Regions from separate parts of the Homo sapiens genome. Here all the other regions are reported to be linked to region 1. The links are microRNA targets in miRTarBase. Many come from high-throughput screens and were not tested one by one. Region 1 holds a microRNA gene; each other region holds the end of a gene's coding sequence.
Evidence for each region. The annotated mature microRNA hsa-miR-4538 reads GAGCUUGGAUGAGCUGGGCUGA and lies in region 1 at 3,580-3,601, shown strand. An mRNA with a match to its seed (bases 2 to 7 or 8) in the 3' UTR can be bound and repressed. Matches are read on the target gene's strand: a 7mer-m8 pairs with bases 2 to 8, a 7mer-A1 pairs with bases 2 to 7 and ends in A, and an 8mer does both.

Region 1 (5,105 bases):
TATTTTCATAATGACTGTGTTCACAATCTTTTTAGGTTAACTCGTTTTCTCTTTGTGATTAAGGAGAAACACTTTGATATTCTGATAGAGTGGCCTTCATTTTAGTATTTTTCAAGACCACTTTTCAACTACTCACTTTAGGATAAGTTTTAGGTAAAATGTGCATCATTATCCTGAATTATTTCAGTTAAGCATGTTAGTTGGTGGCATAAGAGAAAACTCAATCAGATAGTGCTGAAGACAGGACTGTGGAGACACCTTAGAAGGACAGATTCTGTTCCGAATCACCGATGCGGCGTCAGCAGGACTGGCCTAGCGGAGGCTCTGGGAGGGTGGCTGCCAGGCCCGGCCTGGGCTTTGGGTCTCCCCGGACTACCCAGAGCTGGGATGCGTGGCTTCTGCTGCCGGGCCGACTGGCTGCTCAGGCCCCAGCCCTTGTTAATGGACTTGGAGGAATGATTCCATGCCAAAGCTTTGCAAGGCTCGCAGTGACCAGGCGCCCGACATGGTAAGAGACAGGCAGCCGCCGCTGCTGCATTTGCTTCTCTTAAAACTTTGTATTTGACGTCTTATTTCCACTAGAAGGGGAACTGGTCTTAATTGCTTGATGAAGAGCAGGAGACTCATTTATGTGAGTCTTTTGAGTGACCATTGTCTGGGTCACTCCCATTTAACTTTCCCTAAAGCCCATTTGAAGGAGAGGTCGCACGAGCTGCTCCACAACCTCTGAATGGGGATGGCATGGGTAATGATGCTTGAGAACATACCAAGCCCCACTGGCATCGCCCTTGTCTAAGTCATTGACTGTAGGTCATCATCGCACCCTTGAAAGTAGCCCATGCCTTCCAAAGCGATTTATGGTAAATGGCAGAATTTTAAGTGGCAAATTCAGATAAAATGCATTTCTTGGTTGTTTCCAATGATGACTGTTATCTAGAGGGAATTTAAAGGCAGGGGTTTACTGCAGACTCAGAAGGGAGGGGATGCTCCGGGAAGGTGGAGGCTCTGAGCATCTCAATACCCTCCTCTTGGTGCAGAAGATATGCTGCCACTTCTAGAGCAAGGGGACCTGCTCATTTTTATCACAGCACAGGCTCCTAAATTCTTGGTCTCATTCTCAAGATGTTTTAATGACTTTAAAGCAGCAAAGAAATATTCCACCCAGGTAGTGGAGGGTGGTAATGATTGGTAATGCTTTGGAACCAAAACCCAGGTGGCGCTGGGGCAGGACTGCAGGGAACTGGGGTATCAAGTAGAGGGAGACAAAAGATGGAAGCCAGCCTGGCTGTGCAGGAACCCGGCAATGAGATGGCTTTAGCTGAGACAAGCAGGTCTGGTGGGCTGACCATTTCTGGCCATGACAACTCCATCCAGCTTTCAGAAATGGACTCAGATGGGCAAAACTGACCTAAGCTGACCTAGACTAAACAAGGCTGAACTGGGCTGAGCTGAGCTGAACTGGGCTGAGTTGAACTGGGTTGAGCTGAGCTGAGCTGAGCTGGGCTAAGTTGCACCAGGTGAGCTGAGCTGAGCTGGGCTTGGCTGCACTAAGCTGGGCTGAGCTGGGCTGAGCTGGGCAGGGCTGGGCTGAGCTGAGCTGGGCTGGGCTGAGCTGGGCTGGGCTGGGCTGGGCTGAGCGGGTCTGAGCGGGGCTGAGCTGAGCTAGGCTGGGCTGGGCTGAGCTGGGCTGAGCTGGGCTGAGCTGGGCTGAGCAAGGCTAGGCTGAGCTGGGCTGAGCTGAGCTGGGCTGAGCAAGGCTAGGCTGAGCTGAGCTGAGCTGGGCTGCGCTGAGCTGGGCTGGGCTGCGCTGAGCTGGGCTGGGCTGAGCTGGGCTAGGCTGGGCTGAGCTGGGCTGAGCTAGGCTGGGCTGGGCTGGGCTGAGCGGGGCTGAGCGGGGCTGAGCTGAGCTAGGCTGGGCTGAGCGGGGCTGAGCTGAGCTAGGCTGGGCTGGGCTGGGCTGAGCCAAGCTGAACCGGGTTGAGCGTGCTGTGCTGGGCTGAGCCAAGCTAGGCTGAGCTGAGCCAAGTTGAGCTTAGCTGGGCTGAGCTAACCTGGGCAGGGCTGAGCTGGGCTGAGCTAACCTGGACTGGGGCTGAGCTAACCTGGGCAGAGCTGAGCTGGGCTGAGCTAACCTGGGCTGGGGCTGAGCTAACCTGGGCTGGGCTCAGCTGAGCTGAGCTACGCTGGGCTGGGCTGGGCTGAGCCGAGCTGAACTGGGCTGAGCAGGCTGTGTCGGGCTGAGCCAAGCTGGGCCGAGCTCAGCAGAGCTGAGCCGAGCTGAGCTTAGCTGGGCTGAGCTAACCAGGGCTGGGCTGAGCTGGGCTGAGCTGAGCTGAGCTGAACTGGGCTGAACGGGCTGAGGCGAGCAGGGCCGAGCTGAGCAGAGCTAAGCCGAGGCTGGGCTGGGCTAACCTGGGCTGGGCCGAGCTGAGCAGAGCTAAGCCGAGGCTGGGCTGGGCTAACCTGGGCTGGGCTGAGCTGAGCTGGGTTGGGCAGGGCTGGGCTGGGCTGAGCTAAGCTGAACTAGGGTGAGCTGGGCCGAGCCAGGCTGGTTTGGGCTGAGTTGAGCTGACCTGGACTGGGGCTGAGCTAACCTGGGCTGGGCTCAGCTGAGCTGAGCTACGCTGGGCTGGGCTGGGCTGAGCCGAGCTGAACTGGGCTGAGCAGGTTGTATCAGGCTAAGCCAAGCTGGGCCAAGCTCAGCAGAGCCGAGCCGAGCTGAGCTTAGCTGGGCTGAGCTAACCAGGGCTGGGCTGAGCTGGGCTGAGCTGAGCTGAGCTGAACTGGGCTGAACGGGCTGAGGCGAGCAGGGCCGAGCTGAGCAGAGCTAAGCCGAGGCTGGGCTGGGCTAACCTGGGCTGGGCTGAGCTGAGCTGGGTTGGGCAAGGCTGGGCTGGGTTGAGTTGGGCTGAGCTAAGCTGAGCTAGGGTGAGCTGGGCTGAGCCAGGCTGGATTGGGCTGAGTTGAGCTGACCTCAACTGAGCTGACCTAGGCTGAGCTGAGCTGAGCTGAAGTAGGCTGTGCTGGGCTGAGCTGGGATGACCTGGGCTGGGCTGAGCTGATTTGGGCTGGGTTGAGCAGACCTGGGCTGAGCCGGGTTGAGCTGAGCTGAACCAGGATGAGCTGGGCTGAGCTGAGCTGGGCTGGGTGGTCCAGGCTGGGCTGACCTGGACCAGGCTGGGCCAGGTTGAGCTGGGCTAAGCCGAGCTGAGCTGAGCTGAGCTGGGATGATCTGGGCTGGGCTGGGCTGGGCTGAGCTGACCTGGGCTGGGCTGGGCTGAGCTGAGCTGAGCTGAGTTAAGCTGAGCTGAGCTGAACTGGGCTGTGCTGAGCTAGGCTGGGCTGGGCTGAGCTGGGCTGGGCTGGGCTGAGCCAGATTGTGCCTGGCTGAACTGAGCTGGGCTAAGCTGAGCTGGGCTGAGCTGGGCTGAGCTGAGCTGGGCTGAGTGGGGCGGGGCTGAGCTGAGCCGGACTGGGCTGGGCTGGGCTCAGCTGAGCTGAGCTGAACTGGGCTGGGCTGAACTGGGCTGGGCTGAGCTGAGCTGAACTGGGCTGGGCTGAACTGGGCTGGGCTGAGCTGAGCTTGGATGAGCTGGGCTGAACTGGGCTGGGTTGAGCTGGGCTGGGCTGAGTTGAGCCAGACTGATCTGGGCTGAGCCGAGCTGGGTTAAGCCGAGCTGGGTTGGGCTGGGCTGGGTTGGGCTGGGCTGAGCCGGACTGGGTTGGGCTGAGCTGAGCTGGACTGGGCTGAGCTGAGCTGGTCTGGGCTGGCTGAGCTGAGCTGTGTTGAGCCAAGCTAGGCTGGGCTGGGCTGAGCTGGGCTGAACTGGGCTGAGCGGAGCTGAGCTGAGCTGGGCTGGGTTGAGCAGAGCTGGGGGCTGAGCTGGGCTGGGCTGGGCTGAGTTAAGCTGGGCTGACCTGGGCTGAGTTAAGCTGGGCTGACCTGGGCTGAGCTAAGCTGGGTTGAGCCGATCCGGGCTGGGCTGGGCTGGGCTGAGCCAGGCTAGGTTGAGCTGGGCTGGGCTGGGCTCTGCTGTGCTGTGCTGAACAGGGCTGAGCTGAACTGAGCTGAGCTGGGCTGAGCTGGGCTCTGCTGTGCTGTGCTGAGCAGGGCTGAGCTGAACTGTGCTGAGCTGGGTTGAGCTAAGCTAGGCTGGGCTGGGCTGAGCTGGGATGAGCTGGGCTGGGCTGGGCTGGGCTCTGCTGTGCTGTGCTGAACAGGGCTGAGCTGAACTGAGCTGAGCTGGGCTGAGCTGAGCTCTGCTGTGCTGTGCTGAGCAGGGCTGAGCTGAACTGGGCTGAGCTGGGCTGAGCCGGGCTGAGTTGAGCAGAGCTGGGTTGAGCAGAGCTGGGCTGGGCTGGGCTGAGTTGAGCCAGGCTGACCTGGGCTGAGCCAAGCTGGGTTGAGCCAAACTGGGCTGGGCTGGGCTGAGCCAGGCTGGATTGAGCTGGGCTGGGCTGGGCTAAGCTGGGCTGTGCTGCACTGAGCTGGGCTGAGCTGGGTTGAACTGTGCTGAGCTGAGCTGGGCTGTGCTGAACTATGCTTAGCTGGGCTGGGCTATACTGGGCTTAGCTGGGCTGGGCTAAACTGGGCTTAGCTGGGCTGGGCTATACTGGGCTTAGCTGGGCTGGGCTATACTGGGCTTAGCTGGGCTGGGCTATACTGGGCTTAGCTGGGCTGGGCTGAGCTGAGATGGTCTTAGGTGGTCTGAGCTCAGCTAGGCTGGGCTGAGCTGGTCTGAGCTCATCTGAGTTGGGCTGAGCTGAGCTTGGCTTTGCTGAGCTGGGGTGGGGTGGGCTGGGCTGGATTGAGCTGGCCTGGGCTGGGATGAACTGGATTGAGCTGGCCTGGGCTGGGATGAACTGGAGGACATGGCACTGGGCCAATCTTCATGATCTTGTTGGACATAGATGGATAGCCTCAGCTGAGTCTACACTGCGTTCCCCATCACACTCACCCTCCCTATACTCACTCCCAGGCCTGGGTTGTCTGCCTGGGGAGACTTCAGGGTAGCTGGAGTGTGACTGAGCTGGGGGCAGCAGAAGCTGGGCTGGAGGGACTCTATTGGCTGCCTGCGGGGTGTGTGGCTCCAGGCTTCACATTC
Region 2 (5,105 bases), not on the chromosome of region 1:
GTATGACACACAAAAGAATTAATTTGTTCAACTTTGATGGAAGGTAAACCCCTTTAGTTCTCACTTTGTTTTTAAGACTAGGAAAAGATTCAAACTTCTTAATTATGGATTATCCACCATGTTCTTTCCTTCCTCGGAATCTTTGAGATCCAAGAACGTCTGTTCTTTAAGATGTAACAAAAAACACCTGAAGAAATTTGAAAATGACAGAATGTTAAATCATAATAGATAGCAGAATTATGGTTTTGTAAGAAAATACCTGATTTTTAGGAGATGCATGCTGATATATTTAGTGGTGAAGTTCAATGATGTTTGCAACTTCACATGGTTCAAAAAATTTTATAAATATATAATTATACATATACATAAAGCAAATATGGCAAATTGTTGTTGAATTTAGATGATGGCAATATGAGTAGTGTTTAAAATAGTTAGGTCAGGCGGGGTGCAGTGGCTCACGCCTGGAATCCCAACACTTTGGGAAGCCAATGAGGGAAGATCACTTAAGTGATCTCCCTCTTGCAACATAGCAAGACCTCGTCTCTACAAAAAATAAAGATTAGCCAGGCATGGTGGCAAATACCTGTGGTCCCAGCTACTTGGGAGGCTGAGGAGGAAGGATCACTTGAGCCTGGGAGTTCGGCTGCAGTGAGCCATGTTTATACTACTGCACTCCAGCCTGGGTGACAAAGCAACATCTTGTCTCAGAAAAATAAAAAAATAAAATAGTTGGAGCTGTTTGTTTTAGAGGCAAGGTGTTGCTCTGTCACCCAGGCTGGAGTGCAGTGGCACAATCATAGTTCACTATAACCTCCTCGAATTCCTGGGCTCAAGTGGTCCTCCCACTTCAGCTTCCCAAGTAGCACTTTTTTTTTTGTACAGATGGGGGTCTCACTATGTTGTCCAGGCTGGTCTCAAACTCCTGTCCTCAAGTGATCCTCCTGCCTCAGCTTCCCAAAGCATTGGGATTATAGGCATGAACCACCATGCCCAGCTCTTAAAATCGTTTATAATAAAACATGAGGGGTGGGGGGAACCAAGAGGTTGCATTTAGGGACAATCCTAGGTATAATTTTTCCATCTTTTTCCTTTTCCATTCATAGTACAGATGGTTAGGGGAGAGGGTGGTAATGCAGAAAACAACTGATATTAGAGAAGTAACAGTAAATTCAGCCACAAGTCAACTGAAAGACAAGTTCTACACAACTTCTGAAACATCTTGTAAGAGTCCAGATGGTGAGAAGTCAGTAACTAAAATCAGTGGTTTTAGGAATTCTTTTGCCAGGAAGGAACAAAGCACTGGGTGGGAGTATTAGCCTTTCCAATGGGCCTATCAAGAGAATTTATCCAGGAATATTTAGGAACCACATTCTAAAGACGTTACAAAGGCAATTACAGAAGAAAATGTCATGTAGTTCCCTCTGTTCAGAACACACACAATCTTGAGAATCATCCCTCTTTATCTAATAATTAATGCTTACCTGCAAATGAACATATCAATCTTAAGAGGTGGTATAAGAAAAAAAGAATTATATAGGAAATAAGCCAAAGTCTTATAAAATTTGAAGGTGTTATTAAAGGATTAAAAAGGAAACAAAAGGATTGTGATAAGAAGCAAAAAAAAAACATTTTTTTTACATAACCAGAAAACAAATTAAAAAATTAAAATCCCCCAAGAAACCAAATTAACTCATTTTTTTAGTTAACTTACTAAATGTTTTGGAACATACAAAGTGCAAAATATCTTTTGCATCCCTTTAAGAAACACCTGCCTTTCTTTGGTAAAGAATTTCTTGCAGGAAAGATTCCAAAGTTTGAAGTTCCCTCCAACGATCCCAGCAGAAATGTTTCTAACTTCTAAGAATGTCCTAAGAGAATGAGCTAAAACACAGAAAATGTTGAAAGTCTTATTTAGAATATTAAAAACTGGAAGCAATCTAAAGGTCTAACAGTGGAAGAATGATGTATTTATAATGTGAATATACATGTGATGTCCAACAATTTCAATTCTAAGTATGAAGAGTAAGCCACAATAAAGAATGTTAAAAAACAATAATTAGTAAGTAAATATAATTATAAAACCAAGTCAGAAATACAAAAAAAGGGACAACTATACTGGAATGATGAAATTCGATTTCTGTTTCCTGCCTCCTCCCTTGCTGGCTCTATAATTTTTTTTTTTAATTCTTAGAATAGGAAAAAAAGGTAAGAATGCTATGGCTGGAAGGCCACTAGTAAACAAGCACATATAAAGGGTCCTCAAGACAAGACCTAATATGGGTATGAAACTAAATGTTATAAGGAAGGTCATTGTCCTCAGCAACTGACTCTGCTATTTTTACCCCAAACAGGAGCCCATACAAAACCACCCCATTCTTTCCCTCTTTCTAATGAAAGGTCCCAAAAGGTATCCATCCAAGAAGTGCTGCCAATAATAACATTGTTAATTGTGACCAGCCTATAAACATCTTATTTGCAAAGGATTTTAGGCCTGAACTGACATGAAATATAATACTGTGGAACTTTTTTTGTCTTTTTGTGAGTGTTTTCTGACTGCAAAAGAACAGTTCATCAAATTACTTATCTTTTAAAAAACACAATCACAAAATCATATTCATATACTGCTACTGTAGTATTAGGGAATCCCAAGCCTAGACAGGCTGTTTAATTAAAAAAAAAAATGTAAGGATGCTTGTTTAAACAACTCAGAAAGCATTTTTCCCCCAGAAATATTACAGTGATAAGGGAAACGATCTGACCACCTAAGCCTCAGTTCCACAATCTCCCTCTAAATTCTCTGGTCTAGAAAACCCATGGCTCTCTGGGATGCTTCTTATGCTTTTCAGGAGTTTCCCTCACAGGTCTGCATTTCTATCATGGAATTTTTGATTTTTTTTTTTAAGCTAGGAAATGTCTTACTAACAAGTTGTTTTATCACCTAAAATCTACTATTATCCATTTTTACAACATAGATAACACTTGGTTGACTTAAATTCTAGAAGAAAAAAGTCTTGCTTTAGCAATCAAAAACTTAAAAACAAAGGGGTAAGAGGATACTGAAATGTACTAATAGTTTGTGTAGGACCACAAACATTAAAGGCAAGATGATAGTTTTAAAAATGTAATAACTCAAGTCTAAACATGAATGAATTTAAATTTAATCCTTTTTGTATGAAACCAAATAGCAGTCTAATACCACTGGGACTAAGTGCTATAAAAGTAAGTAATAAAACAAATACATGAAACATGATTACAATTTAAATTCTTTGGATTATCTTTTTTTTTTTTTTTTTTTGATATGGAGTCTTGCTCTGTCGCCCAGGCTGGAGCGCAGTGGTGCCATCTCGGCTCACTACAGGCTCCACCTCCGGAGTTCACGCCATTCTCCTGCCTCAGCCTCCCGAGGAGTAGCTGGGACTACAGGCACCCACCACGCCCGGCTAATTTTTTGTATTTTTAGTAGAGAGGGGTTTCACCGTGTTAGCCAGGATGGTCTCAATCTCCTGACCTCGTGATCTGCCCGCCTTGGCCTCCCAAAGTCTTTGGATTATCTTGTAAGACCCCACATTTAATATAGAAGTTTAAAACTCTCTAAAATAATACTACTAAGCATCTTAGTATTATTTAATACTTTTCTATCTAAAAAGTTGTCCTTTCCTTTTTTTTTTTTTTTTTTTTTTTGAGACAGGGTCTTGCTCTGGGCTCAAGCAATTCTCCCACCTCAGCCTCCCATGCAGCTATGACTACAGGGGTGCACCACAACACCTGGCTAATTTTTTTTTTTTTTTTTGAGACTAGGTCTCACCATCTTGCCCCAGGTGGGTCTAGAACTCCTGAACTCAAGCGACCCTCCCACCTCAGCCTCCCAAAGTGCTGAGACTACAGGCAAGGGCCACCATACACAGTTTAAGAATATTTTTTGGATTTTCACAGCTGTCAGGAAAGCTTTAGAAAGAAAAGATGGGTGTTAAAAGTTAAGACACAGCTTAAGACAGAAGCATTGTAAAACAGGAACAAATACTGGCTTAAACCTGATGTCTCTAACTATATTCCTCTATTTTAAGAATGTTTTAGTATCTGATAGTTTCATCAGCCTTTCCATTTTCCAATATGTGACCTTTATTCCCACCATGTCCCAAATAAACGAGTCCTAGGATTTCCTAGAAGGTGGACCTCAATTATTGTGTCCCTTTTATATATAAGGCAAACATTGCTTTTAAGTTCTGTTGGAACATGGGAACTTTCACTAGAATGCTTAGAATGTTCAGAAAAAATGTCCCAAAGCTCTCTTCTGGTCCATACAAGACAATCAGAATGTAACACAGTAGCAGAGGGTGTGGAACATACACTAGTCATATTTGATTCTCTCTGTCAGGGGTTCTTCTTTGTAATGGGAAATAATTTGAATCAGGATGGAACAATTGATAAGAAGAAAGAACAAACCAGCTAACCAAATAAACAGAAAGGTGTTCTTTCCTTGAAACTCTAGAACATAGGCAGGAGCCAGCCACATGGCCTGCCCTATAAACCATAACATTAGGAGAACTACAGCTCTTTTCCAAGGCATTCTGACTAGTGGCATCACAAGAGGCAGTAAGCAGAGGTACCAAAGAAAGTACTGGGAGGTGCAGACTTTGTTAAAAGTCACAAAAATGGACGTATGAAGAAAACAACAAAAAACGAGGTCTCTGTAATAGGCGAAAGACACAGCTGAAAGCAAGATGAGCTGTGGCAGGAATGCAGCAATTCCCAGGGAAAAACTCCACTTGCTCTCTGCAGTCAAATACAGCATGTAGAAGTACGGAGAAAAGTTGTGACGGATATCCCGCCTAGTCAGGTGATAAAAGTAGGTGTGTTCCAAAAATTCCCAGCCGTACTCATAGTAAAAACCAAAGCTCAGGGCAAAAAACGTGAGTCCAGCAACTGCTACAAACAGCAGCACAGCCCGATTACACAGCCTTTTCAGGAGCTCGTACAAACAAGCCTGGAAAGTGTACCGGAATTGACGGAGGCTTTTGTCATTGTCGCGATCTGGAAGCAGGTGGAGGGTTATGGGAAGGATGTAAGTCACTGGATATATCTTCATATGCACCGCGAAACCATAG
Region 3 (5,105 bases), not on the chromosome of region 1:
ATAGCTTATCTTGCCATGTAATGAGAATGGGATAAACAGGAGGCTATGCAGGGTGATTGATCGTACAGATGAGTATATTCTCAGTTCCAGAACCTCCTGAAGGTTTCTGCACCATGACAAGGTGGCAGCTTTTGTACTGATTTTACTCTAGATCCAGGGTTCATAGAACTTAGATAAAACTTTCTCTTCCTCCAAGTTCTTTTCTTAATTTAACTACAGGAAAACACACATTCTTTTTTTACTGTGTTTTAGGTTTTTACATGAAATCTCTGTATTTGCTGAAATATTTTGATATGTTGTCATGAAGAATTGAAATTCACACATAATCCAAATAATTTCTTTTAGCTTCTTTCTAGAGCTGCCAACAGATAGTAAAATGGATCCGTTTTTAATATATCATCCTCTCCATACCCACCTTTAGACAGGCAACATAACTGGCATCAAACTGAGCAAAAGTTATGAATACTGTATCCTTACTAGCCCAAATTTTCATTTTTGTCACTCTGCAGATTTGCTGTGATGGCCTGTTGCTGGGCCTTAGATCCAGAGGAGAGGCCCAAGTTTCAGCAGCTGGTACAGTGCCTAACAGAGTTTCATGCAGCCCTGGGGGCCTACGTCTGACTCCTCTCCAATCCCACACCATCAGGAAGAAGGTGCCTGTCGGGGCTCACTTGAAGCCTGTCAGGGATGCTTTGTATCTAACACAACGCCAACAGAAGCACATTTGTCTTCCAGAACACCGTGCCTTAGAAATGCTTTAGAATCTGAACTTTTTAAGACAGACTTAATAATGTGGCATATTTTCTAGATATCACTTTTATTAGGTTGAACTGAAAGGGTTTTTGTAAATTTTTTGGCCAAAATTTTTTAAAACATACTTACTTTGGACTAGGGGTACATTCTTACAAAATAAATAAACAGTTTTTAAAATTGTTTAGACACAGATATTTGGAATTAGCTATCTTAGTGCCAACTGCTTTTTATTTTTTTACTTCATCAAGGTGATGTAAGTGACTCACCTTTAAAGTTTTTTTAGTGTTATTTTTTATCACTACTCTGGGAAATGGTTTGTCTTCAAGATGCAATACTTTTCTTAGTAAAGGAAAAACAGCATAAAAAGATACCTGGTCTGCCTTGTACAAGAAAAGGCAATATTAGAGGAAGAAAATTTAAAGAAAAGCTAGAGGAAAAAAAAATTTTTTTAAAAATACTTATTAGAAGCAAACTGCCCTTGCATGGAAAACTGTTTATTTTTTTCAGTGAAAAGGAATTCTGCTTTCGTGTTTTTGGGAAAGCAGGAACTGAGTTCATTACATCTTTAATTTGGCAGAAATTAGCCTTTCTGTGAACCAGATGTGGTTTGGGGCAGATCTGTAGTAAACAATGGTGATTTTATTTATTTTTACTCTCTGGAAAAGGAGATAATACAATTCCAGAAAGTGAACTCATATTTCTAAGGTTAAGATTCCCTTTTATTGCACCTAGAATAGTGCTATGCACAGAGCGGGTGCTTGAGTTGTTGTCGTTTTTTGTTTGTTTTTTAAATGTAAACTGGTAAATTTTGTGCTTATCTTCAAGGCTGGCTTAAGTATAAAATTGTTTTTTAAACACTTGAAAAATTAAAGGATTTGTTTTATATTATGACAGTATTGAAATTATTTTTCATAATGAATGATTGGTTATTGTGTCTGGTAAGTCTTTGAACATTCAACAGCCAGACATTTGTGTTTTATTTCATGATGTTCCAGTCAAGTTCCAAAGCCCTAACACAGTTAAGCTGGCTCAGACTCCAGGTTCTAGTAAAAAGTTGGAATTAATGTTATAAGGAAGTATTAAAACACTGAAACATTTCTCCAGAACCAGCAAGTAAGGGATATGTATGTATTTATGCTCAGTTTTAGTTGGCCTAAAGCAGAGTTGAATGGGCTTTCTAAATAGCTAGGCCTGCAGGTACCTGCCACTACTCCCATCTTCAGAGGTATATAAGGGAGAATGTGTAGCAGTTGGAGGCTTTTGCTGTTTTTAAAAAAGCCTTATGAATCAGCAGCACATCGGGAAAAATAGCTCACATAGTACCTGGTTTTCCACAAGTAAGCCAAGGGCATGATTTTCTGTGTACATTTATTAACAGTTCTTTGGTTTTATGAAATACTCATATGAAGCCAGTCCCTGGAGTACTGTTTTTTAAAAGGTCCCTTTGAACCATTTGTAAATTATATTTTCATTCATAACCTGCATTCTTAGAAGGCATTCAGTCAACATTTACAGCACTTACTGTGTATTTTCCACATGGAGTGGTTCAACTCAAGCGTCCCTTCCAGTATTCAGGGCATTCTTATTTCATGTTCAAGTGAGTGCATTGTTTAGAAATCACAGTTTATTAACATGTACATGATCTATTTTAAAAAAAAAATAAGTACTGACACCTGACTTCTACTCCCAATTAGCAGATTGTAAGAAATGTCCTCAGTTTGGTGGATGGTGTGGTGCCTGTAACCTTATCTTTTTGTGTTTGTGAGCACTTTTATTTTATGTATGTATTTTTATTGTAGTAGATTTTTCTTGGTGAGCTACTTGGAGTCTTTGACATGGGAAGGAAAGAGCAGTTATAAGATCTCCCTGACTCATGTTCTTCCAGTAGTTTTATTGTAGATTGTGAATGTTACTGAAGTTTTACATTTTACTGATTTTGCAGAAAATATAATTTTTATGGAAAAGAAGCAAATTGACAAAGCAGTGTTGTGGTATTATAAGCTGGCTCTGGTGACCTAGAGATGCATTCTATTCTGTTTTTTCTTGTAATCCTCCTGTTCTAGAAATTTTTTTTTTTTTTATTGATAGAGGGAGGATTGGGTTGCTCATTCAGTATATATTTATTGAGTGCCCACTGTATCCTGGCTCTCGGGATAATGCAGGGAACAAGATAGATGAGGTTCTTCCCTTTCTAGATTTTGCATTCTAGTTAAGAAAAACAGGTAATGAACATAAATAAGATTTTGGTAAGTGCTATGATAGAAATAATAGAGTGATATTAGAGAGTGTAACTTTAGATGTCATAATTAGCCAAGCTTCTCTAAGCAGGTGGCATTTGAATTGTGATCTGAATGGCAAGAAGCAGCCAGCCATGAGAACACAGAGGCAGAAGGCACATAATTGCAGAAGCCTTAAAGCAGAAGCAAGCTGGCCTCCAATCTCAGCCGTTCCCCTTCATTCTCTAGCTGCTGCTGCTGTTGGAAAAAGAGAAAGGTAGCTAGCGTGGCTAGAATGTAGTTAGGGAAGGGAGTGGTACAAAGAAGCAGGTCTTTGTAAGCTGTGGCATACATTTATATTTTTTGCTGAATACAATGGGAATTCATTTGAGGATTTTTCAAGTAAGTAGCGATATGATCTGATTTGTCATTTTGAAAAGGTTGTGCCATCTCCTCTGTGAAGACTGGATTGTGAGAATTCAAAGGAAGAAGTAATGAGACCCTTTAAGAAGCCGTTGCATAGTTCAGAAAAGAAAAGATAGTGGTTTGGACCACTTTGAGTAGTGAGGAGATACAGAGAGAAGGGGCAGATTGGAGATATGTTTTGAAGATACACCAGGACCTGGATCCATTGGATGTTGACGGTGGGGTGAAGAAGGAAGCGGGGAGGTGAGGAATGACTAATTGATTTGGGGCTTGAGCATCTGGTTTTATGGCCAAGCTATATACTGAGATGGGGAAAAATCTAGGAGAAACTGAATTTTGCATTGGCCAGAGAAATCCATAATTTGGTGTAGACTGTGTTTGAGATGCCAGTTGATCATCTGTATGGAGATTTTTGATAGATGAGAGTCTGCAGCTCAGGGAAGGTCTCATTGAACATACAAATGTAGGAGTATAGCATATAGACTATTTTTAAAGCCATGGTACTGGATGGAGTTGATAGGGAGAGAGTGTATAGATGGAGAGGAGGTCCTAGGACTGAGTCTTGAGCATTCTAACCTTCAGTTCCAGCTAGTGAAGAAAGAAGAGATAACAAAGACAGGAAAAGCCACTGTAATTGATAAAAGCAACAACAAAAAAGTGAAAATGAGGTGTTGCAGGAGCCCAAGAAAGGTCGTGTTTCAAAATGGAGACGCCTCCATCAGATTTGGCAATATGGAGTTAACTGGCAGGAGCATGGGGACTGGAGCAAGTCGAAGTGTGGACACAGGTGGGGACGTAAAGGCCTACCACTGTCAGCCCTGCTGTGAAGGGAAATGAAGCAATAACTAGAGGAGATCAAAGGGGGTTTTTCGGGAGAAGAGGGACAGGGATGAGAGTGTTTTCCAGATGAAGGTACAGTGCCAGAAAATGTTTCATGGGCTCATGGGAATGATCCGGTAGAGGGAGAAAAATCCCTCTGGGGTATGGGCCACTGCTCTTCCTTGCCATTTGGTCCACAACCATGAAAGCCTTTCACTCTGGCCCCGAGCCCTTTTGTTGTATAAGGGTTGTGTGTTTACTGGGGGAGAAATGTGAGGGAGGTAAGGTAAGGGAGGCGGTACACAAAACTGCCACCGTCCCATTACCCAACAGCCTGCCTCTGTTGAGGGGCTTTCCTGGGACTTCAGACTGGCACCCTCATTGTGCTTGCAGCTGTCATGTTTCCTTGCCCAGATTGCCCATAGCTGCTTCCCTGGCCTCGGCCTTGAACCCCTCTAGCCAGCAACTGCCCAGGTAACACTTTATAAAACTGAGCCGCTGTCCCTGCTTGGAGCCTTCAGAGTAGACTTCAGACCTAGGCAGAGTATCCACTCAGCTCTGCCGTTTCTCCTGCTCCCCACTTCGGGCCTGCACGCTTCCCGCCGCTCGGCATGCTCCTTCCCCTTCTCCGAGAATGACGTGCTCCCCGCACTCCCCACACTGCCGCCTTGGGACCAAGAAGGTGCCTCTCACACCTTACTGCTCTCCTCCAGGCTTCGTGGTTGCTTTTCAGCCTTTTTCCCTGGATTTGAACTTTAACAAAGGTAAGATGGAGGTTTATTTTTCACCACTTGGCTGTGAGTTCCTTGAGGATAGGAACTTGTGTTTTACTCAGATCTGAATCTCCATTGCTTTAGTGGTGTGCTCAATACATGGTAGGGGTGAATATTT
Region 4 (5,105 bases), not on the chromosome of region 1:
TAATATATAGTTTTTCTTTTGTTTGTCTCATATTCTTGGCAGGCTATGTCCAAGCATCAAAGAGAGACAAAAAATTTTTTGCCTGTGCTCCAAATTACTCGTATGCAGCCCTTTGTGAGTGCCTTCGTCGAGTATTCATCTATCGTCAGCCTGCTCCCATGTCCACTGTACTTTACAACAGAAAGGAAGGCAGGCAAGTAGGACAGGTTGCTAAGCAGCAAGTAGCAAGCCTAGAAACCAATGATCCTATTTTAGGATTTCAGGCAACAAATGAGAGATTATTTGTTCTTACTACCAAAAACCTCTTTTTAATAAAAGTAAATACAGAGAATTAATTATTCTAACATATTGGCCTCTTTGTACTGGAAAAGTATTCAGTGGTACCTGGAGGTCTGGACAGTTATACTGTAACCTCTTAAGTTTTAATGTGCTAAATATATCTTGTATGATTTTTTATTTTTTAATAACATTGGAAATATATTCAAGAGATTATGATTCTGTAAAGCTGTGGAATGAAGCTGCAGATTTAGAGAACATTGGCTTCTGAAAAAAAAAAAGAGTGAAGATAGTACTAGCAAGTATACTTATTTTTTAAAACAGGCTAGAATCTCATGTTTTATATGAAAGATGTACAATTCAGTGTTTAAAAATAAAAATATTTATTGTGTACTCTGTTCGTTGATTAGTTGCTACAGGCTGTACCTATAAGATGTACAGGATAATAGTTAAATGTTGAGTATTGTACATATGTATTTAAGTGGATTGAATAACTGAGTCTACATGGAGGAGGAAATGCTAGAGAACAGCAGGTCTAATATTTTTTAAGTTTACTGAGAGACCTTTATTATTATTTTCAAATTAAGTATAGCTTTATGTAACTTTTAGCCAGTTGCTCTGCCACAGACATAGACAAAGAGAGATAAGATTTCACATTATCCATCACTGCATAACAAACCACACCAAAACTCAGTGGTTTAAAACAAGGACTTTTATTATTTTTCACGATTCAGTGAGTTGGCTGTCTCTGCTGTACAGGGCCTCTCAGCCTCCAGTAGACTAGACGAATCTTCTTTCCATAGTAGAGAAAACATCTTAAGAGAGCAAGCTCCAATATGCAAGAGCTTATCGATCCTGTACATCTATCATATTTACTAATGTTCCATTGGACAAAGCAAATCACATGGCCAAGTCTAGAGTCAGAATGAGGGGACTACACAAGCTGACAGCGGATGGTATGACTCATTGGGGGCCATTGATGGAACAATCTTACCACACAAGGACAAATTATAATTTATCCTTGTGGCTCTCTTTATTTTTCTAACAACTTCAACAAAATAATCCTGTTTATATGTTATAGTTTCTTGCCACAAATTTTGTTTTTTCAAACTTACCTTTCCAGGTTTGTTTTAGTATGTATGTACCTGGAAATTTTTATTACTTTTTATACCATTTCAAGATATGTATCTTATATAAACCTCAAGTTGGATTTTATATTTTAATAAGGAAGTTAAGACCTTCATTTAAGAGGCAGAAGATTAAGATAAGAAATATAAGATAGAAAAGCTTTGTTCCTAACATATCTTTTGCCTGTCTGGGCAAGTATTTGACTCAACTAAATTTTAATGAACGAATGAATGACAGAGAGGAGGAAAAAAGATGAGGATTGCATACATGTTCTAAACCCTTTGTCAGATTGCAGTTTCCTAGAGAGTATTGAGGTGCTAGGTAGAAAGTTAGGAAAGGTCCTGAGGACTGGTATTGACAATTGGAGTCCTAATAGTACTCTATTCGTATTAGGAAAGAGAGACTAGATACCAAACATCACGAGATCATAGAGATGGAAAACTGTATAGTAACCAAAAACCAAAACAGTGATATTTCCAGAACTTTTTAGTATTGTTGTAAAACTTCATGAAACAAAAGACCATTTAAATAGTGAATTATTAAAAATCTTTATGATGGGAAAGTAGATCTAAATTTTCTCTAAAATTTTCCCCAAAGATAATATCCTCTTAGGGAACATAAGAAAAATGTATAATAAAAATGTGGTGCTTAATTAACCATGACTATGTATATATTGCCAATTTTAGTAATCAATATTCTTTGTGCATGTGATTTTTTTGCATGATTAATGTTGAATTGAAAGCTCTCAGGATAATTAATCCTAAATATTGTCGCATGTTGACCTACGTTAAAAGATGAATAGGTCTAGAGCCGTGATTTCAAGCTATTTTCCTGAAATGCTTCAGGGATTCCATAAACATTTAAACAATGTTCTAAGGTACATATACTTAGAACATTGAGATATATACTACAAGTGCTAAGAATATAGTACCTTGTATTTTTGTTGATTTTTATCATGTTTTAAATAGGAATTTATAAAATATTTATGATAGTAATAAAGTAGTATTTTATGTGTTTTGCATATTAAGAGTCATTAACAATATTCACTCTTTTAACACATTTAAGCATCAACTATGTACCTTAGCATGATTTTTTCAGTATTAAGGATAATATATTACTAAGGATAAAGAGACAATCTACATTTTAATGATTTTCAGATAAAATTTCTTTTTAGGGAAAAAAAGAGGAGAGGGTGGCATAGAGTGGTTGCTTTCCTGCTAAGGAAGTCTGACCAGGGCTAGAACCTTGGGGACTACCCACAAGAGTCAGGTAGAGGAGTTGCCAATGGGAAGAGTTAGAAAAAAGAATCAGAGTGTCAAGAAATTAGGAATGGTTAACAATGTTAAAAAAAATACTCTTAAATAAAGTATACTCATCAAATTTCTACATAAAAGGGAAATGACTGTACAGAACAAGTTAAACCATCATTACACAGGAATTTCTAATATTTTGTGTTATTAACTATAGAAAAGAACAGATGGTAAGTTTATGTGTGGCAAGTCATATAAGAAGGCAAAACTGATACTTATCACTGATTATTACTGGAAGAATATTCTAATTACTTCTTAGTAGTAAGTGTGTCTTACTGAACAAGTAATAATAGTTGAGTGGTAAAAAACAAAAGCCCAATGATGGAAGTATAGAAGTAATAAAGCAAAGAGAAGTAAGGCCTTCTAGAATTGGTAAGAAAGAATAAATGCACAAAAAGAGCCAAGGTAAAAGGTACCCAACTAGATATCAAGATACATCATGAAGCAGTAAAAAGAGTAGCATCATTGCATTAGTAAACAAAATAGACACACATTTAATCGTCCTATACTTACAAGAAGAAAATATCTATATTCTCAAGGTTGAGAAGGCTTCTTAAGATCCAGAAGGCAAAAATATAAGCGAAAGGATTGATGAATTTGATCATTACAAAATGTAAAATTTCTTTATGACCTACTTTTGGTATAAGATAAAGCAACAGACTGAGGAAAGATATGTGACTTATGCGTAATGTATGAATGTTAAAATCTAGAACATAAGAACTATCATTTAATAAAAAAGCAAACAAGTTATACAAAAGGAAAGCAGACAAAAGATATGAACAGTTAATTCACAGAAAAGAAAATAAAGATGGTCAGTAAAGCTACAGTAATCAAGAAAATGTGGTATTGGCACCAATTTCAACAAATAGATCCATAGATCAGAATAAAGAGTCCAGATGGAGACTCAGACACATATGGTCAGTTGATTTTAGTCAGAGATATTTCAATGAAGAGGCAATTCAAAATGCAGAGATAATTTGATGGAGAAAAGATATATTTTTAACAAGTGGCGCAAAAACAATTGGGTATTCATTTTTGCCTTTGTAGTAGCCTAAATAGTGGCCACCTGAAGATATCAGGTTCCAATCCCTGGAACATGAAAATATAACCTTATGAAGATAAAGAGTCTTTGCAGAAGTGATTACAATGAGGATCTTTACATGGAAAAATTATCCTGGATTATCTGGGGTGGACCCTAAATCTAATTGCAGTGTCCCTTACAAGAGAGAGGCAGAGTGCAATTACAAACACAAAGAGGAGAAGCTTATGTGAAGATGGTGTTTAAAAGGCCACAAGCCGAGGAGTGCTAGAGCATGCTGGCAGCCACCAGAAGCTGGAAGAAGCAAGGAATAGATTCTCCCTCAGAGCCTCTGGAGGGGGAATGGCCCTGCTGACACCTTGATTTTGGTCTTCTGGCCTCAGATCTGTGACAGAATGCATTACCACCGAATTTGTGGTAAATTCATTACAGCGGCCATAGGAAACTAACACAGCCTTATATCAGAATTTACTTAAAATGGATCATGGACCTAAATGTAAAACCTGAAACTGTGCAACTTCTAGCAGATAACATAAAGGAAAAATTTTGTAAGGCTGGGTTAGGCAAAGATTTCTTGCATATGACACCAAACAAGAAAAGTGACAAATCATACTTCATCAAAATTAAGAAATTACGTTCTTAGGCAGTGTTGTGACAATGAAAAGCCACAGATTTGGAGAAAACATTTACAAATCACTATTTAATAAAGCACTAGTGTCCAGAATGTATAAAGAACCCTCAGAACTCAATAATAAAATAATCAAATATGTAAATTTTTTATTGGGCCAAAATTTTGAACAGATACATCATACAAGATGAATGGCAAGTAAGCATGTGAAAAGGCACTCAACGTTATTGGTCACTAGGAATGAGCAGATTGAAAGCACAATGCGGTATCACTACATAGCTATTGAAATCCTTTAATTGAAGACTGACCATTCCAGATGCTGGCAAAGGTATGAAACAAATGGAGCTCTCAAACACTGCTGTTTGGAATGTAAAATGGTAGAATCGCCTTTGAAAAGAGTTTAGTGGTTTTCTAAAATGTTAAACATGGATCTTCCATGTGACCCAGCTATTCCACTTACCCATTCTTTTACCTAAGAAAAATGAAAGTATATGTCTATTCAAAGATTTGAACAGAGCAACAGCATTCATAATAATCAAACCTCAGAACAAGTCAAATATCCATCTACAGATGAAGGGCTAAATACATTGTGCTATGTCCATGCAATGGATTATTACTCAGCAATAAAAAGTATCAATATACCCAACATAGATGAATTGCAAAGTAATTATGCTGAGTGAAAGAAGCCAGAGTACATACTGTATGCTTCAACTCAAAGTTCTAG
Region 5 (5,105 bases), not on the chromosome of region 1:
CAAACTAAGTAGAGCTCTTATTTACAAATCTTGTAACAAATACTTCTGGAGGAAAAAGAGAAAAGAATTCACTAAGTTCCAGAAGACAAAGCTTTAATTGCCAGATGTATACAAACACACACTCACACGTACACACCCACACAATACTTCAGGGGTTTTTATACATGTTATTTTAGGGCATAAGCTGAGTACTATACCCCCACACCCCATCAAAAAAGGAACAACAAAAAAATCCCAATTTTACCCTCCCCCAATAATCTAGAAAACCCTCCCTTCACCCCTGATGTACAAAGTGTATGCACAACGGTGGCATTCTACCAGCCACACAAAGCATGCTCAAACAGATGTCACCAGTTCAGTCACTCCATTGGCATGGCAACAGGCAGGTTTACGGGATGTTTCCCAATAGTGGTTATTACACAGTCAGCACCACTGTGAATTTTGTGAATTTGAAAAAAAAAAGTGTAATTTATGGATTCAGGATTCAAAAAGAATCATTTTGTATCGAATTTACCCCAGACAAAGGGAAAACTGGTTGCGACTGAAACTTGGCTATAGATAGCTTGATGTCCCAATATTCAAACAATAAGCCAACTCTCCATTTTCAAGTAAATCCAGCTTCATCCACAGAGAAACAGACAATTTTCTAACCTCAAGAGCAACCAGCTTGTTACATTTTCCCTATCCTATGGCAGGAAATGCGTATTACTTCTGTTCTGTTTAAGCATCTCAGTCTAAATGCCATGAAGACCAGAGCCCAGGTTTCTTCCTTTTCAAATTCTTAAGGTGAAAGTTTTTTCCTTTCAGTGCAGCTACCAATGATGCAGGCAAAGAACTGTTCAAGCCAGCACTCATTCTTCAAAGCTGCAACAGTGGCCACCATGATCTTTTATAAAGCTTTCCCCGTTGCTCCTGATATTTATTTCTGCTTTTGCCTAACGCTCTCAAAGCATCTCGTAAACTGAAGTTTAAAGAAAAGCACGATTCCCATCCCCAACCAGTACTTGAAAATCCACTTATCTGAATGTTCACAGATAAAAAAGCCATTAAAAAAAAGAGTCAAGTTTAGTCTAGCTGACCATATTCACAAGTGTTAAAAACTTTACTGGAGTATAACCTCAAATTTCACTCTTGATTTGTTATCTGTAAGAAAATGCTATTTGAGCCAGTACCAAATTAAGTATTAAAATGAGGATTGAACTGGGGCAAACAGGTTATTGTGAAAACAGTCAATATGTAAGCTCCTTCAAGGGAAATCAACTACTGTTCCTCAAGATTAGAAGATGTCCACACTCTTTGCATTACCTCCCTAAAGGAGGAAACACCCATTAATTTTCCCTTATGGAATCAATATGGAGTGGAAATATGAAATGAGGAGATGTTTTAGAAAGCAGGACAAATCTACCTACCATTACTGGAATTAAAATGTATCCTCTGGGCCCACTCCATTGATTCCGATCTGAGGTGAGGAGGACTAAAAGCAGCAGCAGGTTACAGAAAGACTGAATAAGATGAAAGTATGCTACGTATGTCTAGCTGGGGAAGGGGGGATCTGGAAAAAAAATCTTAAGAACTAGAATGTAGTGTCAGTCAGCATAGCTGCTGAAATCTACGTTGTAGAGGTAAACCTAGCAGAGCTAATACAAACAAGCACCTTCAAAGTTAACGTCCCACTTCCTGAGCACTGCAAAATACGACAGTGAATGCTATTGCCATTTCACCATAGGCACACTAGAGAAAAAGAGGAAGGTTAGTCAAGGATGGTGCCAATGGCCAGTCAGTATCGGCTTACAGCTTGTAATGCGTCCTGACATCACTATCAAGCCTGACTATTGAGCACCTGTATCCAGTTGAGTCACCACCACTGTCCTCCTATTTGCATGCATGATTTGAGGGGAAGACTAGAGTGTTTTAAATCATCAATAAAAAGTGGAGAAAACAAAGGTTATTCAGAGCCTGTCTCACTTGGGGACACAGATCCTTCTGTCCAGTCTATCAGAAATATAGAATACATTTTTCAATCTAATGAATTAATTTTAAAAGGGACCCTAAACAAGAAGCCCAATCAAATGCACACAAGTAATCTAGAAGACATGATTACCTCTAAAATATGTGCATATATCACAGAGATGTTAGTGCAGATTAATATATTAAAGAGACTGTTAAACAACTGAGGCTGAAGTTTTAAAAGAGCCCTCCCCCCAAATCTTCACGAAACATAACCTAAGAAAAGCCCAAATGTTACTAGGAATGTAAGACTTAAAATTATAAACTCCTAAAAAATAGAAGTGCATGGTGGAAACACTGATAGGTCTTTTACTATATGAACACAAACTTCTTTGTTAAAAATGGATACCTGAACAAACCCATTTAGGCAAATAGATTAATCTTTAACACCCTCATTACAAAGTTCACACCTCTGAATTTAACCGTCATGAAAGAGAATGATCCAACTGCTATTTATGTTCAAGTCCTGTATTTTTGGCCATGTAACTGAAAACTCCTTATTCATTCTTTAACACACAGTGCAATAGTGAAATGACTCTGCCACTGTGTGTTTTTTAAAAAAAGATCAGAGTAAGCATGTTCCTAGTAAACCACAAAGTAGGATATTGAGGAAGCAAATCTAGATTAAAAGGCAGGAAAAAAAGGCAGAAGTTTAAATTTCACTAATTTTTCAATTTATTAGCATACCAGGACCCTTTAAACCTTGTTCCCATTAGCGCCTGGTATTAGATGTGAAGGATCAAACCTACGGATCTATCTCCTGACTGCTTTTATAAGGCGTGTAAAAGTCGGTTTTCAACTGCACACAGGCCTCCTAAAATGCCTTGTTTCTCTAGTCCCTCCTGCTTTAAGCAGCATGAGCAGTAAAGCAGGGGTTGGACCAAATAAAAAGACAAGAGCTAACTGAATTGTATGGGAGCAGCATTTAACATATTCCTAGTCAAGGACAGGATGGGAAGTAAGTGAAGAATAGGGCCAGGAAAATAGTGTCCTATAGCAGAGGTGGTTGGCACTCGGGGTAGGGTGTGCAGTGGTGCTCTACGAAGCAGCAGGATCACAGGGATGTACTTCTTATCACATTTCTATGAAGAAATGGGAAGATCGGGATATGAAAAAGAAAATGTTCTATCCCCAAATAAAAGCAGAGCATGGTTAATGGGACCTGAATGCACATTTATAGCATAAAAGAATGTCAATTCTATTTCATAAAGGAAAAATCTCAACTCTTTGTGACTGAGTTTCACATTAACTGGAACTTTATTTGCTTAAAACCTAAACATTGTCAGTTTGAAAAGAAATCCACTGTGACCTGTAGACTGATCTTGTTGATTAAATTCTAGGGTTTTTTTTTTTTTGGATTCTTGGTAAAATTTTATCCAAAAAACAGGATACATATATATTTAGAGAAGGAAATATGAAATCAAGAGTTTTGGCAGCCCCTGCTTTTTTTTTTTTTTTAGCTCCCTAAAGACTGTAGCAGGATAAAAGGATCACTGGCTCCGAGTCTCTTTGAGATAACAAGTGATGAAATAAAAAAGAAAGCCCATACCCTCAAATAAGGTCAGGTAACCCCATTGCCCACCCTCCCTACAAGGTAAAAAATGAGTACTTTTAGTAACAGTTCAGAATTCATCTTTATCTCCTACCTGCCTCATCGGTGGAAGTTTAAAGTCATGATTTTTTTTAGACATTGATACTTGTGTCTATAGACAAATAAACTCATATTAGATGACAATTGATTTTTTAAAAGTCCAGGTAGAGAAAGGAGCAATCATTTTGAACTAAAATCTTTCTATGTTTTTTGATTACTATTCAACTTGCTATTTTTTAGCAAAAAGCGAAGTTTCAATAGTGTTCATCTCAAATCTTATTGCTTTACAACCGTGGTACACCTTTCATTAAAAATAAAAAGATGAAGCAGTCAATCCAGTGATTAATTTGACATGGCTTTCATTGGGAAAGGGGAGGGCTGGCAAAGAGACCAATAGACAAAAAGGTAACTTAAACACTTACACATACAATGGTTTGCTTTAAAAAAAAAAAAAAAAAAAGAGAGAGAGAGAGAAATGTTACTTTCAACAAATGGAAAAAAGCACTGAAAGCCCATGAGTCAAGCCATAGCCAAAACCATGTTCTATCTTAAGTAGGTTCTTTTTTTTCCTCCCTCTTTTTTCTTTTTTTTTCTTTTTTTTTTTAATAAAATCTCTCCCCAGACCATCATCACTTTTAATCCTCCCCAGAAGGGGCTTCATCTTCAGACCCTTCATCCCCAGATTTCTCGGGTGGGGGGCTTGTAGATGTTTTCTTTTCTGGCGGGCTTTCCGGTTCCTCATCTTCTTCTTTGGGAGAAGGAGTCTTTTCCTTTGATGCCTTTGAAGCTGTGGGGCGACCCACTTTCCCTTTGCCTTTCACTGGACTTGGCGTCACTGAAAATAGAAAAATAATTTGGGGAAGGGAAGAGAAAAAAATGTCTTTAATAAAAGTCAGCTACAAAATACAACAATCTGTAAGAATAAAATCTATAAAGACAATATGCAACTTACTAAAAACCAAGGTGGGCACAAGGGAGCACATATATCCCTAGGTAAATCTATCTCAGTTTCTAAACTGGTCATAAGTTACTACACTATGCTACAGTATTTCCCATCAGTTTTTACCAACACTCTATGATGTTAGCAGTAATACCTGTAAAGAAGAAGCACCATGCTATAGAATATGCACAACATCCTTAATTGCTTGGTAAACTAACAGTTGTTTATGATAAAAGTTGTTTATAAAAAGCAGGTCAAAAAGACGGAAGGAAAAGAATTAATCTGATCAGAAACTAAAGCCATCAAATAACATTTGATAGTTCCATCATTCCTAACAGTAGGAAGTGATAAACAGAAGTTTAACAATGACTAGTTCTACCTAACAGAATAAAACCACCTACACAAAAAGCAAATTGATTTCTGATTTAGTTAACAAACTAGCTCCAACGAGGAGAAACCATTAGGGCTCAGAAAAAAATCAACTCATGTCATCAAGTGTGGTTTTATTCTGATAGCACAGAGGATGGGGTAGAGTTCAGAACGTGGAACTTAAACGTATTACTCTAG

Region 2: miRTarBase lists PIGM as a target of hsa-miR-4538. The part of its 3' UTR that is shown has no 7-base or 8-base seed match.
Region 3: miRTarBase lists RYK as a target of hsa-miR-4538. The part of its 3' UTR that is shown has no 7-base or 8-base seed match.
Region 4: the mRNA of NUDCD1 is a reported target of hsa-miR-4538. Seed matches in the 3' UTR shown: 7mer-A1 at 2,224-2,230.
Region 5: the mRNA of NUCKS1 is a reported target of hsa-miR-4538. Seed matches in the 3' UTR shown: 7mer-A1 at 560-566.

Annotation. Positions count from the first base shown.
Region 1 is chr14:105,856,717-105,861,821 of GRCh38, reverse strand. It overlaps MIR4538 (microRNA 4538), which reads left to right and starts at 3,580; the gene lies at 3,580-3,657. MIR4539 (microRNA 4539) reads left to right here and starts at 4,250; the gene lies at 4,250-4,309. MIR4507 (microRNA 4507) reads left to right here and starts at 3,647; the gene lies at 3,647-3,698. MIR4537 (microRNA 4537) reads left to right here and starts at 2,269; the gene lies at 2,269-2,338. It also overlaps IGH. RefSeq lists an enhancer at 1-33.
Region 2 is chr1:160,026,120-160,031,224 of GRCh38, forward strand. It overlaps PIGM (phosphatidylinositol glycan anchor biosynthesis class M), which reads right to left. Exons shown (of 1, transcript NM_145167.3): 1 at 1-5,105. The coding sequence ends at 4,349. Among named protein-coding and RNA genes, the nearest start is that of PIGM, 3.3 kb to the right of the region's middle.
Region 3 is chr3:134,153,669-134,158,773 of GRCh38, reverse strand. It overlaps RYK (receptor like tyrosine kinase), which reads left to right. Exons shown (of 15, transcript NM_002958.4): 15 at 510-1,641. The coding sequence ends at 621. Among named protein-coding and RNA genes, the nearest start is that of RYK, 95 kb to the left of the region's middle.
Region 4 is chr8:109,238,239-109,243,343 of GRCh38, reverse strand. It overlaps NUDCD1 (NudC domain containing 1), which reads left to right. Exons shown (of 10, transcript NM_032869.4): 10 at 43-2,425. The coding sequence ends at 335. Among named protein-coding and RNA genes, the nearest start is that of NUDCD1, 93 kb to the left of the region's middle.
Region 5 is chr1:205,714,047-205,719,151 of GRCh38, forward strand. NUCKS1 (nuclear casein kinase and cyclin dependent kinase substrate 1) reads right to left here. Exons shown (of 7, transcript NM_022731.5): 7 at 1-4,433. The coding sequence ends at 4,234. Among named protein-coding and RNA genes, the nearest start is that of NUCKS1, 34 kb to the right of the region's middle.